Homo sapiens: one gene and its partners. The protein of the gene in region 1 purifies or fractionates together with the protein of each later gene. This does not show direct contact. Each region holds a gene or a part of one and is shown in the gene's direction. Other genes may lie near its edges. The genes, in order: TCF7L2, CUX1 and TMPO.

What was found.
Region 2: the proteins of TCF7L2 (region 1) and CUX1 purify together in Homo sapiens (affinity purification with mass spectrometry, with the first as the bait; 2 studies listed by BioGRID). This does not show direct contact.
Region 3: the proteins of TCF7L2 (region 1) and TMPO purify together in Homo sapiens (affinity purification with mass spectrometry; one large-scale study listed by BioGRID and IntAct). This does not show direct contact.

The regions. Positions count from the first base shown.
Region 1 is NC_000010.11:113,145,608-113,149,260, forward strand, and holds part of TCF7L2 (transcription factor 7-like 2), read left to right. Parts: intron 1-403; coding exon 404-490; intron 491-3,653. UniProt on the Homo sapiens protein: Participates in the Wnt signaling pathway and modulates MYC expression by binding to its promoter in a sequence-specific manner. Acts as a repressor in the absence of CTNNB1, and as activator in its presence.
Region 2 is NC_000007.14:101,820,485-101,824,137, forward strand, and holds part of CUX1 (Homeobox protein cut-like 1), read left to right. Parts: intron 1-3,653. UniProt on the Homo sapiens protein: May be involved in intra-Golgi retrograde transport.
Region 3 is NC_000012.12:98,546,564-98,550,316, forward strand, and holds part of TMPO (thymopoietin), read left to right. Parts: intron 1-1,009; coding exon 1,010-1,295; 3' UTR 1,296-3,753. UniProt on the Homo sapiens protein: May help direct the assembly of the nuclear lamina and thereby help maintain the structural organization of the nuclear envelope. Possible receptor for attachment of lamin filaments to the inner nuclear membrane.

The DNA.
Region 1 (3,653 bases):
GAAGTCCTTTGATTCACTGTACTTTATTTTGGTATAAATTTACATTCATTATTGTTTTCCTTTGGATGTGTAGCCCTCAATTAGTGTGATGGCTCCATTAAAGCAAGCGAGACTTCGCCTTTAATTATTACAACAAAACACCTAGTTTCAGCTTGGGGAGAGGGTCTCTATTGACATAAGCAGAGGTTATAAAATTTAATTAGCCATTCCTATCAGATTTATGGCATTCAAATTGTTCTGTGTTTCTTCCCTTTGATCCTTCCTGTACAATCCCCAAGATTTTTGTTCTGATCAAATGAGAATAAAGCTTACTGTGCAGAGAGAACTTTTCCCTTTTCTTCTTTTTCTTGTCCCCACCCCCACCCTTGTTTCAAGTCTCTTACTTTGTACCCCTTCTTTGTAGGCAAGGTCAACCAGTGTACCCAATCACGACAGGAGGATTCAGACACCCCTACCCCACAGCTCTGACCGTCAATGCTTCCATGTCCAGGTGAGTTCCAAGAACCGGGGCCTTCATCCAAGGCCATGTGTGACTTCTCAAGAAGTTCTCTAGATGGCCACCAAGCCACCCAGGGACCACAGCTACATGTAGTTCTATTAGTGTAAAGCCAATGTGGCATTAGGCTGTACTCCCAGAAAATCCTGAAAAATTGCCCTGAAATTCCAAGGTAAATGATGTCTTTCTGGGTAAAATTTTTGAGTCACTCAGTTGAACAATGTATTTTAATGAATTAAGAAGGTAAGGGAGAAACAGGACAGAAGCTTTTAAAAATGCCATTTCTCTGTTGTCCTGTCCTCAGCAAGAAAGGTAGCGGTGAAGGTAGTTTTATTATTATACCAAGAAGAGTTCGAAAAAAGATTACTGGTGTTCTCAAAGCTCAGACTCTGATTGCAAGTCAACAAGAAAGCATCCGCCTCCTCCCCTCGAAGGTAGCACTGTCCAATAGAAATATAGTGTGAGCCACAGAGGGAATTTTAAATTTCGTAGTAGCCGTGTTTTTAAAAAAGTTTTTGTTTTTTTTTTTTTAAAAAAAAGATAAAGTTATTTTTAATGACATGTTTTTATTCAATGCAATATAGCCAAAATATTATCATTTTAACATGCTATTCCTGGACAACAACTATTAATAAGATGTTATGTTCTTTTTTGTGCTGAGCTTTGGTACAAAATCTGATGTGTATCTTATACGCACAGCACTTCTCAGTTTAGACTGGCCACATTTCAAATATTCAATAGCCACACGTGGCTGGTGCATATCATAGTGGTCTGTGCAGCTCTAAGTCTTTGAAAGTTAAAAAAAAACATGTGTGTGTGTGCTGTACATTCATATATATTTATATTTCAGCGTAGAAACATATTTACAAGATACATTCCTATCCCCATGTTCTTCTTTTCCTCCCTCTGATTAATTCTGGCTAATTTTTCAGTGACTGCTAGTTTATTTACAAACTGGTTGGCAGCAGTATGTTTTAGTCGCTAATTGTTTCTAATGATAGTTTTATTTTCTGTTCATCTGATTTTCAGTCAAGTTAATTAAATCGGTGGAGGTTTAGACTTTGCTGATGGTCTGAAATCACCAACCCATTCTGATGATGGCACATAATGAAATTAGCATGCGTTACATGGCAGGGGTGCTGTCCCCAGCTTCTTTCCCCAGTCCCTGTGGCCAACATGGGAAGCCAAGACCAGAGAAGGGCCTGGAAAGACAGGTCAAGATGCTGCTTTTCCTACTTACAAAACAGTAACTTTAGCAGTGATAGAGAGTTACATTCATTAAGAAAAACAAACCGTGGCATATCTAGCATCGGTAACTATGCCGTGGATATCATAGTTGAAGAGATCCATTTTCTACCTGCGATATATCATCAAAATTTCAAAATCCATGCCAGTATTAGTTAGGTAGGAAAACGCTCGTGTGTTCTCTGGCCTAGAGAGAAGAGGAGGCGTAACACTTATTAAATAGTGTCATCACAGCCTCGCAAAGCATGGGAATGAGTAGGGGGTCTCCCAGGTGGAGAGCACCCAGGGACCACGGCTACATGTCATTCTATTAGTGTAGCAGCTTATACTCCACAGCTCATCTTCCCACCTTCCCAGCATTTGTATATTACACCTGGTTATTTTTCATGTTTGTTTATTTGGTGCGTTCTGGAGGTTAACAGTGGTAAAGTAATTGTAGGATAGGGATTGGGGTTAAGCTGATCGATTGAATTATCATTAGGAGGTTAGTCGATGAATTATAGGTGGGCATGGGGGTGGAGGAAAGGCAGGGAACGTCAGGAAGAAAGGTTAGGGCCTCAAGGTGCGGGGAGAGGCGGCCGACTCCCCAGGTAGGCCAAATGAAAGATAGCTAGTTAAAAAGCATATACAGCAAATTAAATACATTATTGTGATAATGGGGCGACAGAAGTATAGGTCTATTATACTTATGGCAGTTATAGCAAATGTAGGCAGCTTGCCCTGTTCCAGAACACCCTTTGATATTCATTCTATTCAGCAGTGGGGCCAGGACTTCTCAGAATTAAGTGATGGGTCATTATACTTTAAACACCATGGAGAAGCCTAGATTGGCAATTAAACAGCTCTTGCTGACACTCACTTGTGCCACCCTGTGACCCCCTTTAGATTGAGATGTTGGAGCTCCGGGCCCTCAGCCTGCTAAATTGGTGCAAGGCTCTTCTCCTGACGAGAGCCGGCTCTGAAATCTGCCGGCTTCAAAGGGAGCGAGATCATGTATAAACCATAATGTGGGTGCACCGTGGCTCACAAAAAATAAGGCAGGAAGAGATGAAATGTTACAAGTGCAAGGGGGAAAATGAGAGAATAATGACAAACCTAATGCAACTCAAAGCAGGATTGTTGCACAGGAAAATGCATCCTACTGCTTGTGCATAAAATCAAGGCCGGCAGATGACATCCGGTTAACAGAAACGTGTCAACAGTGAAGTAAAGTGAGAGTGAGTAAGAGAGAAGCCCCTGAGACAGCCAGAAACAAAAATTAGTTGTTCTTAACAAGTTAAGGTTCATCATTATATTCTGGCTTGGAGCCATGAAAGCAGACGGGGGTATATAATGAGCTGCTTAGAATTTTTAGGGTGTTTATTGCATTTCATGAAATAGTAGTCTGCAGAAAGGAATTTCTTAAGCGAAGGTATGTGTATACAGCCCACATCCATGTTCACACATGGTCTCTTTCTTTGCTGAACATTTTTCAGATATGGGAATATACGCGTAGGTATGGGAACTTAGAAATGTGCCTTCTTCATGGCTGCATTAGAAGTTTGTCTGCACCCCAAAATGTACTCAGATTGTGGTGCCTTCCCGTGGTATTTGGTGTATGTACACACACGTACACACACACACTCACACATGCAGTGTTTTTCTCTCTCCCCCTCCCTCTCCCTCTCACGTCTGTACACATATTCTCATTCTGCAGGAAGGGAACATATGTATTTGAGGAATGTCAGGCCTTCAAAATTCACAGTAAAAGCTGCCACCCACCACTTCACCCAAGGGCTTCCAAGAACACATGTTCTTAACTTCTGTTTCCTCTGAGGCCTTCGAGCAGTGGGAAGGAACAGGGTGTCACTTGGAGCCCAAGTGTCTCCCAAGGGGTTTTGCTTTTTTTGTTTTTCACATTATTTTGAGAGGA
Region 2 (3,653 bases), on another chromosome or scaffold:
CCAGGATCGTGAGTTATTGTAGAAATTACTTAAGACCTATTTAAAATTATTGAATACATAACTTTAAAAAATGTAATTGCTCTATGAAAAGTGACTTTTATTATAATTGTCAAAGACAGAAATTTGTCTGTCTTGTCCTTTTGTTTTGTCTGAAGCCCCGCGTTATCGCTGCAGAGAGAGAGTTTTGGTTTCCACCGAAATTTCCCTGCCTCCGATTGTTTAAACCAGACCCTTAATCTTATTTTAACATATTTAAAATGTTCACAAAACCCGGAAGAATTGTTTTGTGTAAGTAGCAAGCGAGTGTAGCTTAAACACTCAAGCAATTCTGGTATCTAATTGGAAACAGGTGGAATTCTTGGAATCCCATGTTTGAGTCTTTTTATAGCAAAGCCCAGGGACACTTTTCACTTATAGCCATTCGTTTTGTCGAAGCTATTTGAAGAGGGGCCCCACAGCCTCTCCTTATGTCCCACTGTTGCTTACCTGGACAAAGCAGTCGTGCTGGGCGCTTTAGGAACTGGATACCTGTGAATGCCTGGATGCCGAGAGAAGTGTGTGTGTGTGCCGATAATGGAGTGAAAAAGGAATCTAATGGTATAGTTAGACAAGCAATTTAATATCTGCATTGTTATATGACTTTAGAGCAAAGAATTTGTGAATTCATTTGTGATTTCTGACTTGATGAACCTTGACTGACCAGAGCATGTAGGTACATTTTATTATACCCCAATAATGATATAGAATTCAGAGAGAAGATACTCCCCCCCGCCCCCAAAAAAATTCTACATTTAGAGAATATAAGCTCCACCAGCAACCATAAAAGTATTAACTTGGTGAGGGGGATATTTTCTTTCTTTTTTTTTTTTTTTGAGACAGAGTCTCGCTCTTTCGCCCAGGCCGGAGTGCAGAGGCACTATCTCAGCTCACTGCAAACTCCGCCTCCCGGGTTCACACCATTCTCCTGCCTCAGCCTCCCGAGTAGCTGGGACTACAGGCGCTGGCCACCAGGCCTGGCTAATTTTTTGTATTTTTAGTAGAGACGGGGTTTCACCGTGTTAGCCCGGATGGTCTCGATCTCCTCACTTAGTGATCCGCCCGCCTTGGCCTCCCGAAGTGCTGGGATTACAGGCGTGAGCCACCGTGCCCGGCCCCTATTTTCTTTTCTTTTCTTTTTTTCTTTTTTCTTTTTTTTTTTTTTTTTTTTTTTTTTGAGACGTGGTTCTGTCGCCCAGGCTGGAGTGCAGTGGTGCGATCTCGGCTCACTGCAAGCTCCGCCTCCAGGGTTCAGGCCATTCTCCTTCCTTAGTCTCCCGAGTAGCTGGGACGATAGGCGCCCGCCACCATGCCTGGCTAGTTTTTTTGTTTTTTTGTTTTTTTTTTTTTTTGAGATGTAGTCTGGTTCTGTGGCCCAGGCTGGAGTGCAGTGGCGCGATCTCGGCTCACTGCAAGCTGAGCCTCCCGGGTTCACGCCATTCTCCTGCCTCAGCCTCCGGAGTAGCTGGGACTACAGGCGCCCGCCACCACGCCCGGCTAATTTTTTCTATTTTTAGTTGAGACGAGGTTTCACTGTGTTAGCCAGGATGGTCTCGATCTCCTGACCTCGTGATCTGCCCGCCTCGGCCTCCCAAAGTGCTGGGATTACAGGCGTGAGCCACCGTGCCCGGCCGATGTTTTCTTAAATATTAATGGCAGGGCCCTCTGGATTGACTGTGTTATTTGACCCATTCCAGTTTTCAAGGCGTGGTCTTGAAAAGCTGTCGATCACCCTGGTTTTGGGATGTGTTTCAGAACCAAGTTTCGATGGTGTGTCAGTGTTGGATTTTCCTGCTGAGGACAGCTAAGGTTTGGTATGGAGCAGTTTTGGATTTGCTGAGCTGTAATCAGTCCAGCTTCTCTGCTGTCTTCTGAGAAGGTTGATGGAGGAGAGTGGTCTTTGGCGGGGATGGAGGTTTCCCTGCAGGAAATGAACCAGGACTGAGGGGAACCTGTGCCGTTCCCCTCATTTGTCCTGCGCCTGAAACAGCTTTGAAGCACCTGGCTTGTGACTTAAAAGATTTTTAAAAAGCATTTGTGCTGCCCTATTCGGGTATTACACAGTGAGGGTGAACCATTCTTTTCGAAAGACGTCTAAGGCCGGGCACGGTGGCTCATGCCTGTAATCCCAGCACTTTGGGAGGCCAAGGCAGGCAGATCACTTGAGGTCAGAAGTTCGAGACCAGCCTGGCCAACATGGCAAAACCTCATCTCTACTAAAAATACAAAAATTAGCCTGGCGTGGTGGCGCATATCCATAATCCCAGATACTCGGCAGGCTGAGGCATGAGAATTGCTTGAGCCCAGGAGGTGGAGGTTGCAGTGAGCTGAGATCGTGTGACTGCTCTGCATGCAGCCTGGGTGACAGAGCGAGACTCTGTCTCAGAAAAAAAAAAAAAAAAGACATCTAATTTGTTGTAAAACCTGTCAAGAACCTTCCCTTTAAAAAGCTAATGCCTCTCTAATAAAAATAATTTTAATTTTGTTGTAATTAAATTCAGAGAGGATGATGTTAGTGCACAAAATAAAGATTGTCAATTTCTTTATTTTAATCCAACGGCATTTCCTAACTGCAGGAGGCCCAGGACCGTTGGCAGAAATTTTGTGTTGATTAGAGCCTCGGGCCATGGGAAGTGCAGGTACTGTGGCCACAAAGTTCGTCGCCCAATCCCTGGCTGACCCCACAAGCAGGACTGGTACAGATCCCACCCTCAGGGGTCTTCCTACACAGAGAAACATAATCACACAGGTGACTGGAACGGAGCCAAGGATGGTGGTGTTCCTCCTAGGGATTTACTAACACTGCCAGCAACTCAAGAACTAGCCAGCCGGGAGTTTCCTAGTAAGTGAAACTGACTTGGTTCTGCTTCCTTTCATGAAAACCTTTGTGAAAATGAGCCCAATAAGGGGTCCGAACCTTTATAAAGCACACGACCCCCCAGAGTGGACCGGGCCCTGGCCGACTCCATCAGCCGAAGCTTGAGATCTTGGATGGTCTGGATGGTCTTGACCGTGTGTGATTGATGCAGTTAACAAAGCAGGAAATTAACAGAGCTTACTCTGAGACACCAGGGAAGTGGCTTGTTCTTTCTTGGGGTTACTTTGAGTGGATGCTGGCACACTGCTTGTTTTCTTATAGATACCTTTCTATTGGGCTGTGTTTATTCAATAAGGAAATGCAGTTAACATTTTTTTAACAAGTAAACCATGGGTTATGAGGTGTTCCGAGTTTGGTTAAGGGAAAAACAAATTGACAAATTAGCTCTTTCTTAAGTGAGTATTGCGAAACAGTGAGAAATAGAATGCCTGTCGTACCGTCATTAAAAATTTATCTGGGTGTTGACAGCTTTTTGTTAAATGTAAGACATTCAGATCCTGTCCACCCAGCATATGAAAAAACCAAACCAAACCAAACCGAAAAACAAAATGCAACACAAAAGCTTCTTTCCATTTCCCCCCAAAAGCAAGACAATTTTTCTTAAACTGGGGCTTTCTCCCTAATGAATTGCCATGATTTTGTTTTCTCTAACATAGTTTAATATCTTTAAGACAGAACGAATATCAACTCTTTTTATTTTATTTTTTGAGACGGAGTCTCACTCTGTCGCCCAGCCTGG
Region 3 (3,753 bases), on another chromosome or scaffold:
AGGTACAATGGTACATGCCTGTAGTCCCAGCTACTCAAGAGACTAAGGCAGGTGGATTGCTTAAGCCCAGGAGTTCGAGACCAGTCTGGGCAACATAATGAGACTCTGTCTACCCACCGACTTTTAAATAAATAAGTGAACGAACTGTTCTTTTGGGAGCAGTTTAATTCCCCTAAGCCCACCAGTAAATATTCTTGAAAGTTGAATGAGTTTCAAAATTGCGATTGGTAAATGGAGGATTTTAAATAAATCACTTACTTACTACTTAAATTCATATGTTAAAATCTAAACGAAAATCTAGTGAGAAATAGTTTTTCCCCCCTAAGTTTCTCTTTTCTAATTGAAAAGGCTGTGTTTATGTATCTTAATTTTTAACTGAAAGAAACACAGCCAAAACTGTTTTGTTTTTCCTCTTTACTCCTAAACATGAGCTTTGAAGAGCCTTTAAGAAGGCAGGTTTAGTGACTATTTATCAGTGTTCTGAATATTCTTTTCTAATAAAGGATGCATCGAACTTTTTTTTTTTTTTTGAGACGGAGTTTTGCTCTGTTGCCCAGGCTGGAGTACAGTGGCGTGATCTCGGCTCACTACAACCTCCACCTCCTGGGTTCAAGCGATTCTCCTGCCTCAGCCTCCTGAGTAGCTGGGATTACAGGCACCCACCATCATGCCCGGCTAATTTTTGTATTTTTGTAGAGACAGAGTTTCACCATGTTGGCCAGGCTAGTCTTGAACTCCTGACCTCAGGTGATCTGCCCGCCTTGGCCTCCCAAAGTGCTGGGATTGCAGGCGCGAGCCACCATGCCCAGCCCATCTAACTTTTAAAATAGAAAATATGTAGAAGTTTTAAATAGGTTGACTGACCTCACTGCTTTATATGTATCAATTTTCTACTGTTACCTCAGGGAATGTGCTTGGAATTAGGAGTGGCAATGACATTTTATGTTATTTCTCTAAATCATGCCTTTATCTAAAATTATTTTTCTTTTCCTCCTTTCACTCCCAACAGTGCTAGTTGCCGCAGACCAATCAAAGGGGCTGCAGGCCGGCCATTAGAACTCAGTGATTTCAGGATGGAGGAGTCTTTTTCATCTAAATATGTTCCTAAGTATGTTCCCTTGGCAGATGTCAAGTCAGAAAAGACAAAAAAGGGACGCTCCATTCCCGTATGGATAAAAATTTTGCTGTTTGTTGTTGTGGCAGTTTTTTTGTTTTTGGTCTATCAAGCTATGGAAACCAACCAAGTAAATCCCTTCTCTAATTTTCTTCATGTTGACCCTAGAAAATCCAACTGAATGGTATCTCTTTGGCACGTTCAACTTGGTCTCCTATTTTCAATAACTGTTGAAAAACATTTGTGTACACTTGTTGACTCCAAGAACTAAAAATAATGTGATTTCGCCTCAATAAATGTAGTATTTCATTGAAAAGCAAACAAAATATATATAAATGGACTTCATTAAAATGTTTTTGAACTTTGGACTAGTAGGAGATCACTTTGTGCCATATGAATAATCTTTTTTAGCTCTGGAACTTTTTGTAGGCTTTATTTTTTTAATGTGGGCATCTTATTTCATTTTTGAAAAAATGTATATGTTTTTTGTGTATTTGGGAAACGAAGGGTGAAACATGGTAGTATAATGTGAAGCTACACATTTAAATACTTAGAATTCTTACAGAAAAGATTTTAAGAATTATTCTCTGCTGAATAAAAACTGCAAATATGTGAAACATAATGAAATTCAGTAAGAGGAAAAGTAACTTGGTTGTACTTTTTGTAACTGCAACAAAGTTTGATGGTGTTTATGAGGAAAAGTACAGCAATAATCTCTTCTGTAACCTTTATTAATAGTAATGTTGTTGTAGCCCTATCATACTCACTTTTTAAGACACAGTATCATGAAAGTCCTATTTCAGTAAGACCCATTTACATACAGTAGATTTTTAGCAGAGATCTTTTAGTGTAACATACATATTTTAGAGAATTGTTGGCTAGCTGTACATGTTTTGAAAAGCTGTTTAGCTAGCTATAAGGCTATAATTGGAAATTTGTATTTTTTATTTACAGCAAAACATTTATTCAGTCATCCAGTTTGCTACCAAAATATGTTTTAGATAAGTGTGTGTATGTTTGTTTAGAAGTTAGAAATTGTAAACACTGGTCTTATGTTTCATTTGGATTCATTATTGCATTGTCTTGTTACCAGAAACAAATTTTGCCGAGCTTTTTTTGCCCTATATTTCCCAGCATAATTTGATTAGAAAGTACAAAAAGGGCCAGGCGCGGTGGCTTACGCCTGTAATCCCAGCACTTTGGGAGGCCAGGGCGGGTGGATCACGAGGTCAAGAGATCAAGACCATCCTGGCCAACATGGTGAAACCCCGTCTCTACTAAAAATACAAAAAAATTAGCTGGGCGTGATGATGTGCGCCTGTAGTCCTGTCTACTAGGGAGACTGAGGCAGGAGAATCGTTTGAACCCAGGAGGCAGAGGTTGCAGTGAGCAGAGATTACGTCACTGCACTGTAGCCTGGCGACAGAGCAAGACTCCATCTCAAAAAAAATAAAAAAGTACAAAAAGTACTTGCTTTTATATTACATCATAAGCAGTAGTTAATAAAGTTGTATACTCTTAAGAGGTGGGCATTATGATTATTTTTTATTTTTTTATTTTTTATGAGATGGAGTCTCACTCTTGTCACCCAGACTGTAGTGCAGTGGCACGATCTGGGCTCGATGCAACCTCTGCCTCCCAGGTTCAAGCAATTTTCCTGCCTCGGCAGAGACGGGGTTTCACCATGTTGGCCAGGCTGGTCTCGAACCCCTGACCTCAAGTGATCAGCCCACCTCAGCTTCCCAAAGTGCTGGGATTACAGGTGTGATCCACTGCACCCGGCCGGCATTATGATTTTGTGTACTCTTGAAATGGTTATCTTTGTGGATGATTTTTTTTTTTAAGCTGAAACTTACCTCATGAATAACTTGATTAAAGTAGTAGGTGATTAAAATTTCAATAGAATCAAATGAGACAAAAATTTTAAACTGACTCATTTGAGTTTCAACTTTACAGTCATTGACCATAAAGCACACTAAAAATGTAAGTTATTTTTAAATACATCTGAAATAAAAATACTTACTAAAAAGGAAGAAGCCGAAGATGTATATTTAGACCAGCACACAATTTTGATTTCAATTAGCCTTATTCTAATATTTAGCTTTTAGATCTTTCATACACATTTTCACGTACTTTGCAATTGAGACCAGAAAGACTTGTAGGTCTTTCTGCAGAATGAGTGGGTCCTTGCAAAGTGAGTGGGAAACTTACTCCTAGATCAGAAATGTTTGCCTCTCTGAGTAAAATGTTTCTTTCAGATGAGCCATAGAGGGGGCACCTTTTACTCAACTTTTCTTTGTTTTGAAACTTTGTTTCCCATACTGTTTTCAGCCTTTTGTTTATAATTAGAAATTGTGAGAAGCTTCATTTAGTGTTTAAAAATGTGGGGAGATAAATCAGACTTAACATGTATGTAAGATCAATTCACTTAAAAGTATGGTCCAAATAGCAAAAATAGGACCAGGTGAAACATGTAGTCATTTTTTAAAAACATGTACTTGGTCTTTTGTGTGTGTCTGTTTTATTCCATTAGAATAAATGTGTCCTTGATGTAAATGCAAAGCATTTCTTCCTGATTAAATTGTAGATGTAGACTTTACAATATAATTCAATAATAAAAAGTAATTAACCTCTAGTTT